Linked DNA regions of Homo sapiens: region 2 is linked to region 1. Evidence: fine-mapped expression QTL. A gene starts in region 1. The other region holds a variant in brackets. All regions are shown on one strand. Distances are between the middles of the regions. Region 1 holds the start of TMEM170B (transmembrane protein 170B). Region 2 overlaps LOC105374928 (a long non-coding RNA gene).

Region 1 (5,166 bases):
TTCCTGACATGAACACTTGGATTCTGTAAAAAATATTTATTCAGAACAAGAACAATGCTGACTTTTCTATGAAGATCATTCAGTGATTCATTCAACAAATATTTGTGGTGCAGGTGCCAGGCACTGTCCCAGGTTCTGAATATTTTCACTGCGTGCTACTGTGTTTTAAATAATAGTGTGCAATCCTAAGAACGTAAACTAACTAAAGGTTTCTGATATGAGAGTTTAATGAGCCCCTGCTCAGGGAGTTTGCTGTGAACCCTTCACTGAATGTGGTCACATTCCCTAACATCACTAATTATGTAATGCCAAGTCCCTTAAGAATATCATTAGGTAACCTGCACTTCCCCATCAAGAATCTTAAAGTGAGGGAGTTAACAGTGGGTTAAGAAAGATAATGTGGTTGCTAGAAAGAATAATAGACCAGGAATTCAGAAACTGAGCTGTGAAGTGCTGTCATCTCTGTCAAGTCACTTAATTCACAGAATCTGTTTCCCTATCTGTAAAATAAAATTAGAAAAATGTTAAAGCGCTCTTTTAGGTTTGATATTCTGTAATCTTGTTAATAGATCTAATTAAGTCTAAATTCTAGGAGGAAGATAAACTCTACATTAAGAGTTTTGGCTCAATTCCTATTAATGGTGCAAAAATTTCTCTTATGTTGTGACATCAAAAAGAAAATACAAATAAACAAAGAAATAAATGTGTATGTAAATATTATTTTAAAGTGGTCACCAAGAGCACCATTTGACAGGTAATTTGACCCTTCAGTGCTTTGTCAAATATACTTCATGATTTAGCTACAGCAGGTATTTCTTCACTTCTCTTTGTAAATTTTTCTTTATCCAGATGGCAGAGGGGTTGAAAAAAGGTGGGGGGAGGGGCTGGCTACTGCATATTTATGTTACTGCTAAAACTTAAATTTTTATTTTTTAAAGTTAGAAGGTTTCCAATTTCGAGGAGTTTAACTTGTAGTTGGATTTTAGATGCTCCTCTGGCTAACGCTGGACATGAAGACAGACAGCAAAGCGTGGGGAGAGAGATCTAGTTTAAGTTCGAGGGAAAAAAATAACAGACGCAACTTAGATAAAAGAATACTACCATCAAAAAAAGGGGGGCTAGAGCCGGCGATGGCCTTGAGGATTAGGACACCTGCCGAGCCTGGAGTAAACAGGTAATGTCAGGCAGGTCCTGGAACCCCGGGAGGCCCAAGTTCTTGCTGCGGGAAGAGGGATTAGCAGAATGATAACGCAGGTCTGTTTGTGTTTTAGGGGTTTTAACATGCATTCTGCAAGTAAGTGACCTATCCAGGTCATTCGATTCAGGCTCAGAAAAAAAACCCCGCAAATTAATATATCTAAATGCTGAGATAGTGACACCTTTTTAAAAAAGTTATACATAAGCATCTTTATCAAAAAGCATTACATTTTAAGGCAAAAATCTGAACTGTCACAGTATCCACCTCACCGAGTTCAGCAGCCCCACCTTGGGTCAGGGCTGCCCCTGCAGCGCGGGCCCCCGAAATGCCCGCACCGCCCACGCCGCCCGCACCGCGCGCACCCAGCCGGGCCAGGGCGAGGGATCCAGGTCTCCCGGTCTCTCAGGGCGCGCGCCCGGGGTCCGGGGGTGGGGGGCGTGGAGGCGGTTCCCTTGGAGCGCCCAATCAGCAGTAAGGCCCGGCGGTGGCGCCAGTGACGTAGACCGCGCTTCCCTCCGCCCCACTGCGGGCCGTCGCTCGGCGCCGTCAGCCACGCGCGCTGCAGCGCGAGGGGAGAGCGAGAAGGAGGGCTTTGGGGCCGACCGGCTGTTGGAGGGCGGCGGGTCGCGGGGAGCGGGGGAGTGAGCATGCGCAGCGGCTCCGGGGAGCGCAGGGGAGGAGGGGCCGGCGCTGAGAGGCGCGCGCGTGCGCGTGCACGAGTGGCCCGCCGGCGGCTGCGGGTGGAGGGGGCGGTTCCTCGAGTGTCGGCGACCCGAGGGCGGGCAGGCGGGCGGCAGGTGCCGCCGCAGCCTCTGGCTGGTCCCGCGTCTCCGTCCTCCGGCGGCGATGAGCTGGGCCCTGTCGGGGGCTGCACCTGCCGGCTGCCCATCAGCACCGGCCTCCTGGCGTGACCTCGGCCTCCTCGCGTGTCCAGTCCCCGCGGCGCGGCGCTGCCCCTGAGAGGGAGCGGCGGCGGCCTCCTCCGCCCCGAGTCCTCGCTCGGGGGCCGCGCGAGGACGGCGCCCGGCCCCCTCCCCTCCTTCCTCCGTCCGCCGTCCTCAATGTCTCCCCGGCGGGGAGGGGGCTGCCTGGGAGACACGCTGAGCGGCCCCCCCACGGAGGCCCTCCGGCTGCAGCAGCAGCAGCGCCCGGCCCGGCGTCCCGCAGCCTCCACCAGCGGCGGCGGCCTGGAGGAGCCGCGCACCCGCCGCCGCCCCCCGAGCCTCGCAGCCGCCGCCGCCGCCCGGCACCCGAGGAGAGGGCGGCGGGCGCCCCTCGGGGAAGATGAAGGCGGAGGGGGGCGACCACTCCATGATCAACCTGTCGGTGCAGCAGGTCCTGAGCCTCTGGGCCCACGGGACGGTGCTGAGGAACCTCACGGGTAATTGACGCGCCTGGGCTGGGGACGGGGATGCGGTCCGCCCCTCTCCTGTCTTCTCCTTCCTCGGGAGGGGACACGCTCCTCGCCGCCCCACCCCCGTGCGCGCCCCGCTCGGAGCTCCAGGTCCCGGCGAGGAAGGTGTTAATCGGAGCCACTCTGCGCGTGTCCCGGGGGCGCCGGCTCCCGCCACCCCCTTCCCTGAGTCGCCAGGGGAGCATCAGCGACCCCCGCTCCTGCCCCGCACGGGGAGAGCTCCCGGTGGCGGCCCGGCCTCTGTAGTACGCGCGGAGTAGCTTTAGTGCTGAGACTTGAGCGCATTTCGCTTTTATTCCATTACCCTCCTCCCCTCCCCCTTCTACACACATCGCTTCTTGCTATTTACATCTTTTTCTGATTTAGTTCTTTTTCTTTCTGGCAAATCTCAAGCCAAATGTAGAACCTAAAATCATTGCCCACAATGGTCGATTTACTTTTTCAACCGCTAATTTTTTGGGCGATGTAGATAACTGAGTAAATTATAGTGGGTCAGGGGCTGAGCTAAGGTCTAGTGCGGTCTAAGCGTGTTAGCTTCATATATCTCCTTCCCCTCCCATTTCCTTTTGTCTGTCTGTCTCTTTCCCTCAGGCCTCCAGCTGCTGCTTCTGAGACATTTGATAATTTTGTGTATTTCCCTTCATTTATTAAGGCTGTCAGTAATTGGCCTTATAACATCAATTTCTATTTGTAAAAGTGAGTGATAAAACACACAATATTTTTATTCAGTCTGTAGATTTGCTTTGTGAAGAAACTTCTGGTTTTGTTATGTGGAAATGCTTACATTATACTTTGAGTTCCGAATTTAAAAATTATTCTCTGAAGTAGAATTTACGAGAAAGAGATTCAGTTGCGATTTGGTGACTCCTCAGTGCCTGCTTTTCAGAGGAAAAAAATCTTAAAAAAATACTCAGAATTTAATTCTTGAAAATGTGTAAGGCAGTTAATTTCAGTAGAACATTAGTATTTCAAAATGCATTTTGTCAAACTGGTTAAAGTGTTGTGAGTATTTTACAAATATAACCTGGGTTCATATATATAACATATATATAAAGTCTGGCATGGTATAGAATACAAACATTCATAGAAGAAAATTTTATGGAATTATATACCACAAAAGACAACTTTAAGGACACTGGTTTCTTCGAATGGAAACTATACAGTTAAAGTAGATTCTGGATTGCTTCATGCTATCCTCACTTTTAAGCTGTGGTTATTTAACTTGAAACAGACTGACTTTACATGATGATTGCCGGTAAGGAATATATTGTTATAATTCTGGAAAACTAAATGGACATAAAGACCATCTCATGATTCAGTTGAATTTAGAGGTAGACTGCTTTATCTTACTTATGATTTTGCTTGCATTTATCCACTGTTTGGTATTTGAACTGTACCAGTTTTTGTTTAAGTGAAATGAAAAGTAGGGACTTAACATATATTTGTGCAGGCATACCTTGGAAAGATTGCAGGTTTGGTTCCAGAACACCACAATAAAGCAAATATTGCAATAAAGTGAGCCAAATGAATTTTTTGTTTTCCTAGTGCATGTAAAAGTTACATTTTACCTGTAGTCTTTAAATGTGAAATAGCATTATGTCTGAAAAAAAAGTACAGACGTTAATTTAAAAATACTTTATTGCTGAAAAATTGCTAACGATCATCTGAGCCTTCAGCAAGGACGTTATCTTTTTTCTGGTAGAGGGTCTTGTCTTTGTGTTGATGACTGCTGACTGATCAAGGTGATGATTGCTGGAGATTGGGATGATGGCAGTTTTCTTAAAACAGCAATGAAGTTTGCCACTAAGGAAGAGCAATAGACTCTTCCTTTCATGAAAGATTTCTCTGTAGCATGGGATGCTGTTGGGTAGCATTTTATCCACAGTAGAACTTTCAAAATTGGAGTCAGTCCTTTCAAACCCTGCTGCGGCTTTATCAACCGAGTTTATCTAATAGTCTAAATCCTTTGTTGTCATTTCCACGGTGTTCACATGATCTTCACCAGGAGTAGATTGCATCTCAAGAAACCACTTTCTTTGCTCATCCATAAGAAGCAACTCCTCATCCATTCAAACTTTATCATGAGATTGCAACAATTCAGTCACATCTTCAGGCTCCACTTCTAATTCTAGTTCTCTTGCTATTTCGACCACACCTATGGTTACTTCCTCCACTAAAGTGTTGATCCCCTCAAAGTCATCCATGAGGAATGGAGTCAATTGCTTTCCAACTCCTATGAAAGTTGATATTTGGACCTCTTCTCATGAGTCACGATTGTTCTTAAGGGCATCTGGAATGGTGACTCCTTTCCAGAAGGTTTTCAATTTCCTTTGCCCAGGTCCATCAGAGGAATCACTATCTCTGGCAGTTTTAGCCTTCTTACACAGTGTATTTCTTAAATAATAAGACTAGAAAGTCAAAATTACTCTTTGATCCATGGTCTGCAGAATGGATGTTGTGTTAGCAGTCATGAAAACAACATTGATCTACTTGGACATCTCCATCACAGCTCTTGGTTGACCAGGTACATTGTCATTGAAGAAAATACTCATTA
Region 2 (5,166 bases), 48 kb before region 1:
AAAAGACAGATGTTGTGTTCTGTTTTTTTCATAAGGATGCAAGAGAAGATAAGGAAGACAAGATCTCAACCACTTTCAGCAAAGCTTTGCGGAGAATGCAACATCCTTCAAGACACCATGAAGCTCCACGCATCTGGTCATCTTGTTTCTTCAGGGAATAAATTTATTGTTCTCTGCTTCAGGTGACTGGAGGAGACAAAGTGATCCCCCATTTATGTCTCTGCCTCTACCTTCCCTGCTGCTACCTGCAACTCTCTGGTGTCTTTGGGGGGTTCCAACTCCTTGACGGGGAGGGCGAGTTCCCTGGGCAATTGGCCATCAGTGCACCCTGCCTCTATTGGGAAGAGCTCTTCTACCAGGCTGTTCCATTCTCACAAGTAAGCCTAAAAGAGATGGCTCCCTCAGTGGTTTACCTCTGGTCCTATCAATCTGATGATGAGGCCACTTAGTTCTAAGTAAAGTGACAGATGACCAAGGACTTTCTTTGAAGAGACATTGGGTTGGCCAGGCGCGGTGGCTCTTGCTTGTAATCCCAGCACTTTGGGAGGCCGAGGTGGGCAGATAACCTGAGGTCGGGAGTTTGAGACCAGCCTGGCCAACATGGAGAGACCCTCTCTCTACTAAAAGTACAAAATTAGCTGGATGTGGTGGCACATGCCTGTAATCCCAGCTACTCAGGGGGCTGAGGCAGGAGAATTGCTTGAACCTGGGAGGCGGAGGTTGCAGTGAGCCGAGATTGCACCACTGCACTCCAGCCTGGGCAACAAGAGAGAAACTGTCTCAAAAAAAAAGAAAAAAGAAAAGACATTGGGTGTTCTTGATACTTTAAGATTTCACAGACGAAGAAAATGCAAGTCAGCAAGCAGGTTGCTGAGTATTCCCAGGGTATTCCATCCTTTTCTTCCATTTACCAAAGAGCTAAAGAGTAGTTTATATTCATTGCCTTCACTTTTGCATCTTCACTTTTTTTATACTTCATTTGTTTACCATATCCCTGAAATCCTAGCAGTCTGACATCTGAGAGCCTACCTTCTTTCCCTTAACTCTAACTGAAATTAACTCCCAACTTTAATATCCATTTGTCTTTCTCTCCCCCAACTTGCTGCTGTGTTTAAAACTATTGATTGACAACCCTACTTGTAAAGGCCCCTACCTTGGCTCCTATGACTGCATTATCCTGGGGGTGGGCAGGAAACCCTAGGGAAAGCCTTTCATCAATGAACCTGGATGTGAGTCCTGATTTTTCTCAATACTATCTATGTCACACTGTGTATGTTAATTTTGTTCAATAAGCTTTATTCTTGTTCACCTCGTATATTTGTGACGATTGAGTAATGGGGAAGAATATATTTGTGATGACTGAGTAATGGGGAAGAATTTTGGATAACACCAGGGTTTGGGCTTAGGTGAATAAGAGAATAAATGTGCAGATATTCAAGGCTTACTTCTTATACGTAATTAGTTGCTAAGAGAGATTAACTTCACTTCTATCACGTCTCCCAGATTTATTCCTCCTCTTCATTTTTATTACCTTGGTAGAACTCTTCACCACCTTTGACTTGGCCTAGTGGTTAATGAGCTGAGTTCTGAGCAGCTTTTGGGATTTCCAGGGAGATTCCTCAAGGACTTCTCCTCATTTTAGCAAGGTTAGCTCCACTTTCATCTGTTTTATTTATGTGTTTGTTTTTTTATTTGAAGAAAATATTTTCATTTTCAACTTTAATAAGAAACGACACTTACCCAGTTATTGATTCTGCCTCATCATCGGTCTCTATCTTCAGATCACCTCCCATATGATCTTAGAGTCAGTTCTCTGATTACTTATCCTGAAGCATATTTCTGATCCTGTCATATTGCATTGCCCGGAAATCTACTGTCCAAAATAGCAGTCCTTGGCCATTTGACTACTTAAGTTCGTTAAAATTAAATTAAATTAAATTAAATTAAAAATTCAGTTTCTTAGTGGCACTAGCCATATTTCAAATGCTTAATAGCCACCTGTATCTAGTGGCCTCCATTTTGAACAACTCATTGTTAGAACAGTTCCATCATTCTGGAAATTT[G/C]TATTGGATAGAGCTGTGCTAGATAGCTTGATAAACATTTCTGACCTTGGCATTAGGATTTAAAATCTATCTTTACCTGGCTCCTCTGCTGCTGTTTTCCTTTATAAAATGCTTCTGTAAGACTGAACTGTTTTCAAACATGCCATACTCAATTCCTGCTGTCATGCCTCCACTTACCCAACCCCACTCAGAGTGTCTTTTGCTCCATCACTGAACACCCAAATCCTACTCCCCATTTAAGGACTGTCCTCCAAGAAGTCTTTTCTAATTTCCGAACTCAAAGTAATTTACTCTTCCTGTGAACTCTTACAGGATTTTAAATAAAGCACTCTAATGTCATCTACCTCATTTCTTCTAGAATTATAACTATCTATACATGTATTTTAGCCCTTTAATTAGTCGGGGTTCCTCTGAAAGCTGATTCTGAGACAAGGATTCAAATCTGAGTAGTTTAGCTGAGAGGTGATCCCAGTAATCATCAGTGGAGGAGGGGGTTAGTAAAAGTGGGAGGCAAAGAAAATCAATTAAGGATGAATTATCAGTTCAGTTACTGATATGGAGGACTAGACCTCAATCCCACTGGAGGCAATGTGGAACAAAGTTATCCCAGCCAAGGTCAGGGAGGCTCCAATGTGTATTCACCAATGCCTTGCCCATTATTTATTTGAGGGATTCCAGGGAAAATCATTCTTGAGCATTTCCATTTTGTCCTGCATTCAGGGCAGGCACACTTGGCCAGTAAAGAAAATCCCCCCAGCAGAGAATTGCAGATACTCACAGCAAGAAGCCTTTCTTGTGAATGGAGGATGGATGTGGAGCTGGTCCGAGCAGTCTGCCTACTGCATCTGCTATGACACCCAGCAAACTGGAAGGTAGGTCCTGGAGGGCTGAGGTCACATGAGTCATAGATGTGTGTCTCCCTCAGTGACCTAACACCGGCAATCAGCAAAGAGTTGTTCAGCGAATGAATGCGTTATCCCGAAGATATTAGGTACTGGAGAAGAATTTGTCATGGAACCCAGTGGTTTGGATGGGTCAATTCACTTGCTGTCAACTGAGATAATCTCTGAATAGACAGACCTACGCCTAGGGTTTTCTGTTGGCTTTGATGTTCAGTACTTATGGACTAAACATTGTACAAGTGTGGGAATTTGTTGAACCAGACTGTAAAGGAGTTTTGAGATTGCTTCAGAAGCAAAGGAGCTTATATCTAGAGAGGAATACTCGGGAACATCGACTGCAGCACTTGCCTTGGTTAGATGCCTGATGATGCTGTTGTCACAGCCACCAAGGGAACCAGGTTTTTTCATTGCAGCCGGGCTTCAATACAGTCAGCCCTCTATGCCTGTCAGGAGAGGTGGCGGTGCAGTGTAAGACTTGGGAATCTAGGAAGAAAGGGTGTGTGTGTGTCTATGTGCGTGCATAGCATGTGTGTATGTGTGTGTAGCGTATATGCTATGTATGTGGTATGTGTGTGTATGTGTTTGTATGATGCATGTGCTGTGTGCTGTGTATGTTGTGTGTGGTACGTATGTGGTGTGTATATGTGTATTTATGTGTGTGATGTGTATAGAGTCGTGTGTGTGATGTGTATGTGTATGGTGTGTGCGGTGCATATGTGATATGTGCATGTGTGTGTGATGTATGTAGGGTCGTGTGTATGTGTTGTGTGTGTATGATGTGTTGTGTGTGTGCTGTGTATGTGGTTGTGTGTGTGGGTATATATGGTATGTGTATGTATGCATAGGTTTGTGATGTGTGTAGGGTTGTGTATGTATATGGTGTGTGTGTGATGTGTATATGTATATTTGTGTGATGTGTGTAGGGTTTTGTGTGTGTGGTGTGTATATGTGTGTGGTGTGTATATGTATGTGTCTTTCTGTCCTCCAACTTGCTGCTGCATTAGGGTTGTGTGTGTATGGTGTGTTAGGGTGGTGTGTGTATGATGTGTGTGGTGTGTATGTGGTTGTGTGGTGTATATGTGGTGTGTATATGTGTGTGTATATTGGGTTGTGTGGTGTGTGTGGTATGTTTGTGTGAGTGTGTGTGGAGTGTGTGCATGTGATGTGTATTGGGTTGTGTGTGTGGTGTGTGTGTGTGGAGTGTGTGTATGTGATATGTATCGGGTTGTGTGTGTGGTATGTTTGAGTGTGTGTGTGTGGAGTGTGTGCATGTGTGTATCGGGTTGTGTGTGTGGTGTGTGTGGTATGTTTGAGTGTGTGTGTGTGTGTGGAGTGTGTGCATGTGTGTATCGGGTTGTGTGTGTGGTGTGTGCACACGTGTGTGCTGAGAGTCATTGAGGGTACGCATTGCAGCCCTACAGGGCTGCAGAGGACCGAATGCCTGCCTGCACCATGTTGACCCTGATAGCAAGGCTGCTACAATATCGCCTTCCTCATGCCCGTGGCCTACTTTGCTCCCAACTCTCACAGACAAGGAGCCACACATTAAAAGCCTATGTTAAGCAGTCATGTGTCCCAAGAGAAGGGGAACATTGCAGTAAGAAATTCTGGTGAACGATAGAAAGCCAGGTGAGATGAACCTGGGGTACAGGGTCCTGGTCACCTAGCTAACTCAGTTTTCAAGGAGGAACCTGGTTGGAGACTCAGGTAGAAGAGGAAGCTCAGAACAAGTTTCAAACTGGAAGACCAGACAGTGGTTGCAAGTAGAGTCCCTCGAGGCTGAATCACAGCTCACAGTGTATAATTTTTAGAATACTCATCTTCCAGTCCCAGCTTGACACTGACTTGGGGAAGTTACATAGCCTCTTTCAGGCCCCTGCATCCTCATCTTTTAAGACAAAGATGGTGAAAGTCTCTGTTGTCAGGATTAGAGGATTGCTTTTAGCAGAAATTCCCCATGGAGAGCAACTATTATTATGGATGCTGGATCCTGATGGATACCTCGGGGATATCCCATCCCAGTTAAATCTGTAGTAAGGGTTCAGGATGTAACATGGCAGCCAGGAACTGGGGTCATTGCACGGTCATCAAACTCTGAGTTTCACAGTAGATTTGTAGGTTTAGGTTTAAAGTTGCTTACGCAATCCCAGGTTGGTTTGGGAACTAGTGTGGGCTGAGCCTACTGGTGTGGGGAGCTGTAG

Evidence for each region.
Region 2: its variant is fine-mapped to the expression of TMEM170B in whole blood (TOPMed, PIP above 0.99).

Annotation. Positions count from the first base shown.
Region 1 is chr6:11,535,796-11,540,961 of GRCh38, forward strand. TMEM170B (transmembrane protein 170B) reads left to right here and starts at 1,954. Exons shown (of 3, transcript NM_001100829.3): 1 at 1,954-2,579. The coding sequence starts at 2,483. RefSeq lists silencers at 1,418-2,247, 2,278-2,437, 2,538-2,617, 2,628-2,907 and an enhancer at 2,247-2,748.
Region 2 is chr6:11,487,530-11,492,695 of GRCh38, forward strand. LOC105374928 (a long non-coding RNA gene) reads left to right here. Exons shown (of 5, transcript NR_187824.1): 2 at 36-182; 3 at 2,784-2,935. Among named protein-coding and RNA genes, the nearest start is that of TMEM170B, 48 kb to the right of the region's middle. RefSeq lists an enhancer at 4,476-4,595. The variant G/C (reference allele first, on the strand shown) is at 2,064.